Linked DNA regions of Homo sapiens. The protein of the gene in region 2 interacts with the protein of the main gene of each other region in a pairwise test. Each region holds a gene or a part of one and is shown on either strand. Other genes may lie near its edges.

Region 1 (7,550 bases), on a different chromosome or scaffold from region 2:
CACTTTTTAAAAATCTGTAAGATGCAGATGATTAGCCATCTCACAGCAACACTGTGATTATAAATTGAAATATTGGATGTAAATTTCTTTTTTCTTTTCTTTTTTTTGTTTTTTTTTTTTTTTGTTTTTTTTGAGACAGAGTCTGACTCTGTCGCCCAGCCTGGAGTGCAGTGGCATGATCTCAGCTCACTGCAAGCTCTGCCTCCCAGGTTCACGCCATTCTCCTACCTCAGCCTCCCCAGGGGAGCTGGGACCACAGGCGCCCACCACCACGCCTGGCTAATTTTTTGTGGTTTTTTTAGTAGAGACGGGGTTTCACCGTGTTAGCCAGGATGGTCTTGATCTCCTGACCTCGTGATCCACCTGCCTCGGCCTCCCAAAGTGTTGGGATTACAGGCATGAGCCACCACACCTGGCCTGGATGTAAATTTCTTAGCATGGTTTGTTGGGTGGTTTTATTGCCACCATGTCATCGTCATCATCATCATCATCATCATCATCATTATTTAAAGCCCGAAATTCTCTTCTGAACATCCTTTTGGCCCCAACCCAGGAATTGTGAAATACAATATTCTAAATGTTATTTTAGGAATGGTCTGTAATTGCAGTTTTGATTCCCAATTTAAACTCAGTTCTTCAGGAGATTTTTGGTGTTATTGTTAATTTCATGTAGTTAAATTTCCCAGATTTAGTGTTGCTGTTCTTACAATTTTTTATTAGAAAATTCCAGTTTAATTGCATCGTGCCACAGGATGTGTCTTATTTTTATTTGTTGGAATTCATTGAGGTTTACTCTGTTAGCCAGTATGTGATGTGACTAAGTGTTTTATGTGTTCTGTGCACATTTGAAAAGAATGATTATTCTGTGTTTTGGGTTTCAAATATGTATATATTCAAATGTGATATTAAAATGCAGTCATTATGGTCAACAAAGAACTGCTTATATGATAGTGGTCCCATAAGATTAAAATACCATATTTTTACTGTACCTTTTGTTACAAATGTTCAGATACACAAATACTTACCACTGTGTTACAAATGCCTACAATAACATGCTGTACAGGCTTGTAGACTAGAAGCAGTAGGCAATACCATATAGCCTTGGGGTGTAGTAGGCTATACCATCCAGGTCTGTTTAAGTACCCTATGTAACGTTTGTACGACGATGAAATTTCTCAGAACTTATCTTCATTGCCATGCAACACATGACTGCATATATATGTAAGCACATATTCAATTTTGTAAGTCATAGAATTCAAGCTCTTTATGTACATTTTGTCTAATTAATCTGAAAAAATCTTAACAGTGGTGTACATTGAAATCTAACACCATATTTGGAGTATATCTCTAATTTTTTTGTTTTACATATTTCGACGCTTTATGTTTACCCAAAGTTTTCTGATTTTCATGCCTTCATTGAGTGCTCTTTTTATCATTTTGTAAAAAAGTAATTCTTGATCTATTTAATAGTTGCCTCAATTTTTATTTTGTCTGACAAAATTAACACTGACACCTCACTTTCTTTTAATTTGCATTTGCACAGTATTTTCCTATCCCTTTATTTGTAACTTTATGTGATTAAGTTTTAAATGTGTCTCTTGAAAGTGGGATATAATTGGACTGGGGAGAGAGAGTTTGTTTCTTTAGGCTTTTTTTGTTTCCCTTTTTTAAACTGAATCTGAGAGTCTCTTTTATTTTAATGTGTAATCTTACTACAGAGCTTAATTGATTCATCTTTCTTCTCACATGTTTTGTTTTTCTTATTATGGCTCCTTAATTATTCCTTTTCTTGTTTTCCAGTCAACTTATTCACACTTTCTTTTCCTTCTTAATGAATCATAGGTTTCATTCATTTTATTTGATATTACTGGTGGCTATGTAAAGAATTTTTCAAAGCAATATTTGAGCCTGTATTTTTCCTCTTCATTGATTGCAAGAATGGCACTATCTGATGCCTCTTCCCTATGCAAGAGGTGAGGTGCTAGGTGCTCTCAGAGTGATTGACTATTTAGGGGACATCATAGATCATTATATATCATCTCTCAAGATTTTTTTTTTTTTTTTGAGATGGAGTCTTGCTCTGTCATCTAGGCTGGAGTGCAATGGTGTGATCTCGGCTCACTGCAACCTCCGCCTCCCAGATTCAAGCCATTCTCCTGCCTTAGCCTCCCGAGTAGCTGGGATGACAGGCACGTGCCACTATGCCCGGCTAATTTTTGTATTTTTAGTACAGATGGGATTTCACCAGGTTGGCCAACTGGTCTTGAACTCCTGGCCTCAAATGATCCACCCACCTTGGCCCCCCAAGGTGCTGGGGTTACAAGTGTGAGCCACTGCGCCCGGTCTAAGATTTATCATTTGCTTTATTTCAAAATCGTATTAACAACCGTCACTGAGACTTAAAATTTGTCTTGTTTTGTGGCCTGTCAATTTTTTTATCATCATGGTCTGCTCCCCCAACCCCTCCAGGCTCTTGCTCTGCCCTATCTTGAACTCCATTCTATTACAGCACTAAACCTTTTCAGTCCCCTGAATGTCCCATGCGCTCTCTAGCTTCCAGGACTTGGTGCAGGCTGCTTCCAATGCCTTCCAAATTTTCTTTTTTTTCTTTTTTTTTTTTAATTTTGTTATTATTATACTTTAAGTTTTAGGGTACATGTGCACAACGTGCAGGTTTGTTACATACGTATACATGTGCCATGTTGATGTGCTGCACCCATTAACTCGTCATTTAGCATTCAATAAACGTAATCCAGCATATAAACAGAACCAAAGACAAAAACCACATGATTATCTCAATAGATGCAGAAAAGGCCTTTGAGAAAATTCAACAACCCATCATGCTAAAAACTCTCAATAAATTAGGTATTGATGGGACGTATTTCAAAATAATAAGAGCTATCTATGACAAACCCACAGCCAATATCATACTGAATGGGCAAAAACTGGAAGCATTCCCTTTGAAAACGGGCACAAGACAGGGAAGCCCTCTCTCACCACTCCTATTCAACATAGTGTTGGAAGTTCTGGCCAGGGCAATTAGGCAGGAGAAGGAAATAAAGGGTATTCAATTAGGAAAAGAGGAAGTCAAATTGTCCCTGTTTGCAGATGACATGATTGTATATCTAGAAAACCCCATCGTCTCAGCCCAAAATCTCCTTAAGCTGATAGGCAACTTCAGCAAAGTCTCAGGATACAAAATCAATGTATAAAAATCACAAGCTTTCTTATACACCAATAACAGACAAACAGAGAGCCAAATCATGAGTGAACTCCCATTCACAATTGCTTCAAAGAGAATAAAATACCTAGGAATCCAACTTACAAGGGATGTGAAGGACCTCTTCAAGGAGAACTACAAACCACTGCTCAAGGAAATAAAAGAGGATACAAACAAATGGAAGAACATTCCACGCTCATGGGTAGGAAGAATCAATATCGTGAAAATGGCCATACTGCCCAAGGTAATTTATAGATTCAATGTCATCCCCATCAAGCCACCAATGACTTTCTTCACAGAATTGGAAAAAACTACTTTAAAGTTCATATGGAACCAAAAAAGAGCCCGCATTGCCAAGTCAATCCTAAGCCAAAAGAACAAAGTTGGAGGCATCACGCTACCTGACTTCAAACTATACTACAAGGCTGCAGTAACCAAAACAGCATGGTACTGGTACCAAAACAGAGATATAGACCAATGGAATAGAACAGAGCCCTCAGAAATAATGCCGCATATCTACAACTATCTGATCTTTGACAAACCTGACAAAAACAAGCAATGGGGAAAGGATTCCCTATTTAATAAATGGTGCTGGGAAAACTGGCTAGCCATATGTAGAAAGCTGAAACTGGATCCCTTCCTTACACCTTATACAAAAATTAATTCAAGATGGATTAAAGACTTAAATGTTAGACCTAAAACCATAAAAACCCTGGAAGAAAACCTAGGCAATACCATTCAGGACATAGGCATGGGCAAGGACTTCATGTCTAAAACACCAAAAGCAATGGCAACAAAAGACAAAATTGACCAATGGGATCTAATTAAACTAAAGAGCTTCTGCACAGCAAAAGAAACTACCATCAGAGTGAACAGGCAACTGACAGAATGGGAGAAAATTTTTGCAACCTACTCATCTGACAAAGGGCTAATATCCAGAATCTACAATGAACTCAAACAAATTTACAAGAAAAAAACAACCCCATCAAAAAGTGGGTGAAGGATATGAACAGACACTTCTCAAAAGAAGACATTTACGCAGCCAACAGACACATGAAAAAGTGCTCATCATCACTGGCCATCAGAGAAATGCAAATCAAAACCACAATGAGATATCATCTCACACCAGTTAGAATGGTGATCATTAAAAAGTCAGGAAACAACAGGTGCTGGAGAGGATGTGGAGAAATAGGAACACTTTTACACTGTTGGTGGGACTGTAAACTAGTTCAACCATTGTGGAAGTCAGTGTGGCGATTCCTCAGGGATCTAGAACTAGGAATACCATTTGACCCAGCCATCCCATTACTGGGTATATACCCAAAAGATTATAAATCATGCTGCTATAAAGACACATGCACACGTATGTTTATTGGGGCACTATTCACAATAGCAAAGACTTGGAACCAACCTAAATGTCCAACAATGATAGACTGGATTAAGAAAATGTGGCACATATACACCATGGAATACTATGCAGCCATAAAAAATGATGAGTTCATGTCCTTTGTAGGGACATGGATGAAACTGGAAACCATCATTCTCAGCAAACTATTGCAAGGACAAAAAACCAAACACTGCATGTTCTCACTCATAGGTGGAATTGAACAATGAGAACACATGGACACAGGAAGGGGAACATCACACACTGGGGACTGTTGTGGGTGTAGGGAGGGGGGAGGGATAGCATTAGGAGATATGCCTTCCAAATTTTCTATAGTCCTTGATGATGCTAAATTTTCATCACTCTTCAAACCCTATTTTTGGATAACACTTCTTTAAAATGAAACCACAAACCAATACAGACCCCCAAAGCTGTCTGTGCTCTGAGAACAGGTTCTTCCACTACCAAAGCACTCATCTGATGCTACTCCAGTGGCTTGTGTCACCACTGGTCATGTCTACTGAACTCTAAGCTCCCTGAGGGCAGAGTCTGTCTGTCATATTTCGAGTTGATCCATGAGGCCTAGCTTGGCGAATGGCCTCTATCAATTGCTCAGTAAATATTTGTTGAATGACTAAGGATGATTGCATTTAATGTTTAAAGGTGTTCTCTGGCCAGATAAAATGTATAAAGTAGGAAAAGACATTTTACATACTGTACAACACCTTTGCTTGGGCTAATTCTTCTGGGGAACTAATAGTTCACTTAGTAACCCCATCTCTGGTTCAAATCTGATGAATTGCCTATGCTTACTTGCCTTATATTGTAAGTGATCATCAAGATACATGGAATACTGTTGAGATATGGAGAAGAATGAGGTTAAGTCTTTTTGTGCTACATAGAATTGGAAAACAAAACATGCTGCAGCACAGTGTGTGCGCGTGTGTGTGTCTGATGCTAGAATAAATCAGAGAGAATACTCAACAAGCTGTTATTGAAGAGCAGAGAATGGGTAAAAACTGATTACTCTACATTTTACTAATTACAGCATTTTTACCAAACACAAAATTTAATATTAAAGATTAAAATACAAAGTGGCAATATAATAAATTGCTAATAAATTTGTATACACCACTTAACTACAACCTAAAAAGAAAAAGAGGGAAAAACAAAAACCACAAACTTAAAACAAAGAAACCCAAAATATGATCTGCCTACTGGAAGAAATAGAAGTAGGAAAGTGGCTCAAAAAGTTGTTCGTGGATGAACAACTAAGATCTCCTTCCTGGAGAACTAAGGGCAGGGCCATTAAATTAGACATTTCGTGATCTCTAAATAGAACTGAGAGGAGATTCAAAGAAATGCAAAATAACAGCTATAGAGCATTATGGAGTCTTTGGCCTGAAAGAATTTTTCAGATTTTGATGGTCCAACTGCTGTCATTTACTTCTGTGTGTGTGTGTGTGGATGGGGGTGTGTGCGTGCATGTGTGTGGGTGTATGTGTGATTGCTTTGGCTTGAGTTTTGGTAAGAAATTACATATCATGTCTTTTAAGATTATTTTTAGATATATTTCTCTTTTTCACCACACATACACACACACACACACAGAGACACACACACACTTTTTATTTTCTGCTTCTGACAACTAGCTCAATGCAGGGGATGCATTGTCCTGCCACTGCTTCAGTAAATGTGACAGGTATCCTGTGTTCTCAGCAACTGCTGCAGGATTCTCTGGCATCTGCACTTTGGCTGGAGTTGGCTACAACCATCCTTGGAGGATGAGGAGAAGGAAGGAAGAGAGGGAAAGCGCATAAGACTGGGCCACCTGTCCACCTTCTCCAACCCTCACCATTGCTCGAGGCTCTCTTAATCCATTTATGAGGAGGTAAGTACAGAAAAAAAGACAGATGAGCTTATGGCTGACTCAGGCCTGAAATCCTTGCCTTGGATAATGGGAAGAAGGCCATCTTTTTGAAAGAGAAGATCAGGAATATTTCAGTTACAATACTCTCCTGACACATTTTCACCATTCCAAACTCCACCCAGTGTTCTACAGGACTATTTATGAAACTTTTAAAATCTTGACCTAGGCTAGGCATGGTGGCTCACGACTTTAATTCCAGCACTTTGGGAGGTTGAGGCGAGCAGATCACTCGAGCTCAAGAGTTTGAGACCAGCCTGGCCAACATGGCAAAACCCCATCTCTAATAAAAATACAAAAAATTATCCAGGTGTGGTGGCGTGTGCCTGTAGTCCCAGCTACTCGGGAGGCTGAAGGGGGAGAATCACCTGAGCTCACGGAGTCAAGGCTGCAGTGAGCCGGGATTGCACTGCTGAACTCCAGCCTGGGCAACAGAGTGAGACCCTGTTTCAAAAAATAAATAGATAAATAAATAAAAATAATTTTTAAAGAATTTTAAAAATTAAAAAAATCTTGACTTACCATAATAATTTACATTTTACATCATAGTACATGGATCACATACACATAAGATTTATATGTATACATAAATAAATAAATATATATAACTAAAAACTTTCATGAAACAATACCTTTACTACGGTATAATAAAAATAATATAAAATATCTTTGGTATGAAAAAGATAATATAAAATATGATTTTGCTAAGAACCTGATGCAATCTGATGTATGCTATTCTTTTTTTGTTTTAGAAAAAGGAAGTTGGTTCCAACCCGCTAAGTTGATTTTCAATCCACTAGTGGGTCATGCTTGAAAACCACTACTTTCAGGTTTTCTCTGATTTTTTACAGCAATTCCATATGGGGTATTTGCTTTGATTCCTCATTTAGCTCCCTTCTTTGGGCCACTGAATCTTGTCATATGTGCATTGATTTTGCCGCATTTGCTCAGCCCTACTCAAGAGGTCTGTGCTTACTCAGATTCGGGAGCTGGGATGAGTTCTGAAATTCCTCGTTGGA
Region 2 (7,550 bases):
GAGGCAAAGTATTCTACAGAAAAAGGAATCCTTCCAAAACGGAGGTTCTTGGGCAATTACTTTGGGAAATCACCTCCCTGATCTGTGAGCATTTCAAATTTTGTGTCAACTGAAGTTGCTCCTTCACACCTTGTCTTTTCAGCAAAATCACAATACTCGCTCTCTAGCCAACCCTGAAAAAAACCTTTGGGTTTGGAGGACAATGCATGACCTGAGACAGCGCTCTGTACAGATTAGTGTTTCTGTTGACAGAATGAGCTCTTAGTCTCTGTAAACCACCACAATTTCATCAATGAAAATTAGAAGCTCAAGATCATCTCATAAATAGTTCAAGACCCTCACAAACATTCCCCCCAACCATAACTGCATACAACTGCGTACTCCTCTGACACCATCTGGCTCTTGTAAACACCGGGGCACCAAGATGAGTGAGACTGATGCCACTCAAAATACACTACCTAATTTATTTATGTTTATATATTTTATTTTTCAATTTCATTCTTTTATATACATGTTTTTGGTAATTATAGTAAAGATGCTGGTGAAAAGTAATTTGTTTAACATTTCATAATGCGTGCAAAAGGAAAAATACTGATTCAAAGAAAAGTCATTCTTACAACTATTCAGCCCTGACAATTATGACAAGCAGTTAGGCAATATCATGACTTGCAAAGTTATACTTAGCATAATGTTGCAATTCAAAATATGGCACAAAATTAACAATACAGATAACAGTCCTACTGGCTAAACTTAGCCAGGTTTCGACTAATTTGGTTTAAATTGAAATTTGATTATATAAAAAGGTTTCTGAAAGTATTGAAAAAGAAACAGTGTACATGAAAGAGAATTCAACAATGTTTACAAAATGCCAAAAGTTCTTACTCTGCCCCCCATTACCATAAATAATTAATGAAGCCCCCCTTCCCCCCACCCCCCAGACTCAAAAAGATTTACAAAGATAAATTTAGCTCAGTGAACAGAACCAAAAGATGACTGTTGTTAGACAGTACCTGGTTAAAAGCTCAAGCACTTTCATAAGAATTCATATATATTGTCTCTTGAGTAATATAAATAATCCGATAGTGTTGCTCTTTTGAGTTTTGGAGACTTCTCACTTAGGAGTTATAACCGTCCTTGTGCTTTGAATAAAACATGAGCTTTAAAGCAGAATGCTGATGGTATTCAGAATTCACCATCTTCAAAGTTCATTGTGAGAATTCTTCTCTGCAGCTTTGAACATCAGGATGGAATTGAAAATTTTGAGAGCAGGGCCCAGTTTAATGCTCATAATTTTAACAATGTCTGTTTGAGTCATAAGTAGAAATGCTTCTCCATCAATTTGCTAAAATGGGGGAAAAAAACAACAGAATGTGGATTAACAAGATGCAGTGTTGTAGAAAATATTCAAGGTTAAATTACCAGCTGTCTTCTACATAGCAATGCTAAAAAAGCACAGAGAAGTTCACGTGTGCAATGACATTTCTTGATATATGGACCTTTCTTATCCACAATGACACATCCCAAAGTGGACTGGGAACAAAGTAAACTAATTCACCTGAAAAACCAGCCAAAGGAAAACAGAAGGTGCCCATATCTTCCTGTGATTACTCTGAATTAGTTGTAGAGTTAAGAAGAATATGGAAAAATCCAGGATGCCCAAAGTCTAGTTTTTATCATGGCAGGTTTTAAAATTAGAAGAGATAACAGGTACATGAATGTTTGTGGACATAAAATAACTCAGGCAAACATATCAGCTACATGCAACATTTTTTTTTTTTCCAGAATTAGCCTTCCACCATGAAGAAAAGAAAATCAGAAAGATAACACTTATCTCTAGTGTGGCCACAGTTAAGTCTTTACACACAGAAGAAAAGCATTTACTAACGGGGCAATCAAACAGTGAATGTGAGGCTGGTGTTACGAGTCACTGACTTTAAGGTGGTTCTTCTAATACGCAGGTAGGGTAACTATGAGAAAGACCCTTCCTCTCTCTGGACATCTTCTAAGACAAAAGTCTATGCTTCTGAAAAATAGGCTACTATTCTCTAGAAGTTCAAAGGTACAACACATCTTTTAGGTTAAAAGATAAAATACTATGAAAATGATGTCTGGCTTACTGGGCAGAGCAAAGAAACAGTCTTTCATTATGACTTTCAGCTCTTCTATCACCTTAAAAAAAAAAAGTTTCCCTTTCAGTTTTCCCACCTTGTACAAAAAGTAAAACACACTTTTGTTCTCTGCCTTAGAACATCAGAAACCTTGACAGCAACGCACTCCGTTATGGGTTGAATGGTGTCCCTGTCACAAAAATTCGTATATTGATGTCCTGACTCCCAGTACCTCAGAATGTGACTTTTATTTGGAAATAGGGTCAGTGCAGAGGTAACTGGTTAAGATGAGGTCACACTGGAGTAGGGTGGGTGCCTAATCCAATTATGACTGGTATCCTCATAAAAAGGAGAGATCTGGAGAAAGAGACACATATAGAGGGAAGGCAACGTAAAGACCCAAAGAGAGACCACCATCTACAAGTCACATCTACAAGTCAAGGAGAGAGGCCCAGGACAGATTCTTTCCTCACAGCCCTCGGGAGGAAGCAACCCTGCCAACCCCCTGACTTCTAGCCTTCTTCAGATTCTCAGCTTCTAGAACTGTGAGACGATGCATTTCTGCCATTTAAGCCACCCGTTTGTGGTTGGCATTGTTATGGTGGCCCTAGCAAACTAAGACAACTCTAAATTCTGCAAACAGTTCTCTAAACAAGGCTGATATAATTAAATTGCTACTTCTTAAGATTTTCCTCTCTCCTTTAAAAATGAAAGACCTGTAAATATAGACTGCCTAAATGCTTCATCAGTAAGAACTGGAGTCATCTTACACAACTTCTTCAAGTAACAATTATGTGGAAAAAGTGTGCTAATTTCAGTAAAAAGACATCCTGCTGTTGTAAACTAGAAGGAAAGACGTTCCAGTGTTAATCTCCAAGTGTAGCACCGTTAAGCGGCAGGTATGAGAAATGTTCTCCTGTTTTCTGGAAACATTGGTCTGTTCTCATTTGCTTGTGCTATGACAGTCCTCTGATAAAGCAAGGTCAGGAAGAAAGGCAGATCTATTAACACTTCGCTCAACCAAGGCAGACCTTAGTACAATGGACAGCCTTATAGAAGTCTTCTAAGTCATTAATGAAAATGTCAACTGACATTCCCAAGGAGCCCACTACAAAGGCTGACTGGTTTATTACAACCTTGGCCCTACTGAAGGCCTGGCGCAGACAGCAAGTCTCCTTCTGAAACTATGTAAGAGTATAACACAACAGGTAACTGATGAAAAAAAAAAACATCCAGAGAACTTAGTGGCTGGGATTTGAAGTTAAAAGTGGGACAGTAAGGATACATTTTGGTAGGTTGTTATTTATAAGGTTACATACACTAGAAAGAAAAAAAATCTTGAGGCTACTTCCAAACTCTTTATTACATACAGGTTGCTCTGACATGTGGCCATACAAACAAGTCTTGATTGGAAGGAAGTCAACTTAATTCAGGAAAGTACATCCTAAGAACAACAGTGACCACTGCAATGTATTACAAGGCTTACTTTTTTTTCGGTTAGCTTCTGCAATGCATATACAATGCCATTATTCCAGACATTAGGTGTCTTGCTAATGGCCTAAAACAAAGGAGAGGGATTTGGAATTCAGGAGCTCTGGCCTTCCATTTCACTGCCCTTTCCACTATTCACTATTTGTTCTTTTCCAATGCCTTAACTCGAAACCACAGTGACATGCTCTGTCTGAGTGAGTCTTTCTCAGAGTGTAAAGGCATGAATGTATTCACTCAACAAAAATATACTGAATGTCTATTATATTCCAAACACTCTTCTTGGGCTTAGACATATAGCAGGGAATAAAACAAATAAAACCAAGCAAGCAAAAAACTTTTTGTGGAATTTACATTCTAGAAGTGGTAGACAGACCATAAGCCAATAAACATACTAAGTAAGCCAATTAATTAGTAAGTTAGAAAGTGACTCATGTTGGCCAGGAGCAGCGGCTCATGAGTGTAATTGCAGCACTTTGGGAGGCTGAAGTCAGTGGATCACTTGAGGTCAGGAGTTCAAGACCAGTGTGGCCAATATGGTGAAACCACATCTCTACTAAAAATACAAAAATTAGCCGGGTGTGGTGGCACGCACCTGCAGTCCCAGCTACTTGGGAGGCTGAAGCATGAGAATAGCTTGAACCTGGGAGGCAGAGGTTGCAGTGAGCTAATATTGTGCCACTACACTCCAGCCTGGGCGACAGAGTGAGGCTCTGTCTCAAAAAAAAAAGGTGATTTGTGCTATGATTAAACAGAGCTGACTAGGAAGATGAATGGGCAGCAGGAGCAGGGATGCATGTGTGGTGACAAGAGGCAATTTCAAGTAAGAAAGTCAGGGCAGGACTAATTGGCAAGCTGGCATCTGAGCAGAAGAAGTGAGCCACATGAACATCTGGAGGAAGAGTGTTCTGTGCAGAAGGAGGAGCGGGAGCAAGCCTGGACAATCAGAGGAAGAGCAAGGAGGCCAGCACGTAGACTCGTGAGGGGCAGTGTAAACAAAAAGCCAGGGGGCAAGAGAGGTAATGAGGTGTCAGACTGCAGGCCCTTGTAAGGACTTCTGCTTTTACTCTGATTGAGAGATGAAGCTATTGGAAGGACCTGAACAGAGGAGTGACATGGTTTGACTTATGTTTCAGCAGGGTAACCTTGGCTGTGCTGGGAATAGACTGTAGAGGAGCAAAAACAGAAGCAGGAAAATGAGTTTGGAGGTTACTGCACTAATCCAAGTGGGAGAGGATGGTGGCGCAGACCAGGGTGGTGGTGGCAGTAGGGTGATAAGGGTTTTACATGTTTCAAAGATACACCCAATAGGATTTTCAACAGATGAGATGTGGCATGTGTAAGAGAGAAGTCAAGGATAATTTCCAACAACAGCCTATCTGAATACTTGTCCTTTGCCTTTTAAAGATGATTTATAAGACTTCGGTTAGATTTGTACTATGGTTTACTTGTAGGACTCAAAACCCAAACCCACTGACCTTGTGAGACACTTGAGAACAAGGACTAGGTTTCATTATTTTCGAATCATCCTTCTCACAAGAGCATGACACAAAGTAACATACTCATGGTCGGAATTTAACAAATGTGCACAAGATGAATGAATGAAGGAGTAAATGAATGAATAATTCATATCGACAGAGAATATTAACTATCTCACTCCTCCAGAAAAGGATCTAGCTTTGAGCATATTTGGTAACTGAGGAACATCTCCAAAGACAATCTGCCATGAATAAAAAAAATTACTCAAAAAATAGCATCTCATTTTGAATTTAAACTTGAATCTTACTCAAACTGAATAATAGAGCAAACCTATAGGGATTATCTAGATAACAACAGAATAAAAAAACAGAAGTTATAAAAGAGATGCATTATAAATTTATTTTCAAAAATGCTTTATTATTTTCAAAGGTAATGACAACATGACATTTTCCAAGACAGACCAACAGCTCCCTATGTGGCTCTAAGTCTGCTCAGCGATACAGAATGAATTCAGGCTGGGCACGGTGGCTCACGTCTGTAATCTCAGCACTTTGGGAGGCCGAGGTGGGCAGATCACCTGAGGTCAGGAGTTCGAGACCAGCCTGGCCAACACGGTGAAACCAAGTCTCTACTAAAAATACAAAAAAAATTAGCCGAGCGTGGTGGCGGGCACCTGTAATCCCAGCTACTCAGGTGGCTGAGGCAGGAGAATCGCCTCTGCCAGGAGGCGGAGGTTGCAGTGAGCACTCTAGCCCAGGAGAGAAGAGCAAGACTCCATCTCGATTTAAAAAAAAAAAAAAAAAAAAGGAAAAAACAGAAAATGAATTGAGAGTATCAGTGAAGACACTCAGGACTTAGGGAAAGAAAATCTGAATAACTGCCAATTAAAGATCAAACAGAGAGAAAATAAAACCTTTGCACAATAAGAACATAAATCAGAAAAAGGATGTTGGAAATCAGATCCTTGTGCATTTTAACAAGCTTTCATCTAACGCATAAATTATACCTAACAGTATAACAACACTGACAACTGGTGGCTGGATTGTTAGCTGTGTCTATACTCCTGCAATGAAATGGAAAGTGTGCTGTTCTTAACAGTTGAGCTTTACACATAGGGGCAAACAAGTTGTGTATGCGTGTAACTGTAGACAGCAGATGTTGGAGAGCACCTTCTGAGATTACTCAGTCTACTTTCTGCCTTCTGGCAGGAGTAGACACAGCCAAAATCAGAGGGGTAATTGACTGCTTTGCTTGGAGGAGATGACAGGCAAGTGGCTTATTTTTAAAGGTCTCTACTGAAAAGGGTCTCCTGCTGTACGCTTACAGAATTAAAAGTTAGAAACCAGATTCCTTTTTATTCTAGTGCTCACTGTAAGTGATATCATTCTTAATCACCCCTTATATTGAAGTTTTGGAGAGGGAGTTGAAAACAACTAATAAAATAATCTTCCAAAAGTGGACTGTGATAAATATCTTATTATAAACATTATTGAGGAATGTATATGACTTAAGGGATTTTTTTAGACATAATGCTAATATTACTTATTATAAACCTCAAATGGAGTCAATCATGGTGTTGTTAGAATGACACTGGAAAATAAAATAATGGAAACTAATTTCACTTTATTAAAAAGAGAAAATGTTGCTTCTTTCTTTCTTTGGCTTCCTCTGTGCTATAAACTATATAAATGCATGCTATTAAGTTCTGTGGGTTTTCTTTTTATAAGGAGCCTAGTGTTACTGCTGTGGGGTATCATAAAATGGTACTCACAAACATTCTTATGCATCTCATCTTATACAAAGACATTTTTATACAACTGATTCATACTGCCTGTTAGTATACATCAATTTGTCAATTTCAACACACCCCATCTCTTTTTGACTCTGCCAATTCCACACATTTCACCTTCCACTGCATTTCAGTGCTTTGATCCCATTAAGTAACATATTGCAATTTAGTGGAATACTTACTTCATCTTTAAATACCTTTCCATGTTCTTCACACCCAGGTAAGCTCTGTATAAATTCTGACACCTGTCAAAAGCAATATCAAAATTCCCAGTTAAAAAACACAGTCAGAATCTAAATGCTACAGGTTCAAAACATTTAACCCATATGCATTAGTTATTTCTCTCACAATAATTTCTTCTCTTTCAGAAAAAAAAAGACTAAACGCTACCTACGCTCAATGTTCCACACCTCTTAAGCCAGTAATCCTGTATCTGGTGTCGGGCAGCAAAGAAAATAAAATATACCTCGTCTGTGCTCCATTTGGAAACTTTACTGGCAGGGATTCCTGCGACAGTTGGAAGAAGTTTGCTTTGCTGCTCCCAGCGCAAGGGCAGACATGGAATTGGGGACTTAAAGGACAGAAAGACAGCTGACCGACGCTGTGCCTGCTGGACGGTGGGTTCTTCCCGGGCACCTGGTCAATGAAAACAAATGGGAAATCACTCTCTGAAAGCAGCAAGAAAG

Evidence for each region. The genes of interacting proteins can lie anywhere in the genome.
Region 1: the proteins of L3MBTL3 (region 2) and IL16 interact in binary tests that used the Homo sapiens proteins (3 or more experiments, as listed by UniProt).

The regions. Positions count from the first base shown.
Region 1 is NC_000015.10:81,199,820-81,207,369, reverse strand, and holds part of IL16 (pro-interleukin-16), read right to left. Parts: coding exon of another isoform or gene 7,508-7,550; intron 6,970-7,507; exon of another isoform or gene 6,900-6,969; intron 1-6,899. UniProt on the Homo sapiens protein: Interleukin-16 stimulates a migratory response in CD4+ lymphocytes, monocytes, and eosinophils. Primes CD4+ T-cells for IL-2 and IL-15 responsiveness. Also induces T-lymphocyte expression of interleukin 2 receptor. Ligand for CD4.
Region 2 is NC_000006.12:130,133,402-130,140,951, reverse strand, and holds part of L3MBTL3 (lethal(3)malignant brain tumor-like protein 3), read right to left. Parts: intron 7,501-7,550; coding exon 7,331-7,500; intron 7,110-7,330; coding exon 7,047-7,109; intron 1,343-7,046; coding exon 1,199-1,342; 3' UTR 1-1,198. UniProt on the Homo sapiens protein: Is a negative regulator of Notch target genes expression, required for RBPJ-mediated transcriptional repression. It recruits KDM1A to Notch-responsive elements and promotes KDM1A-mediated H3K4me demethylation.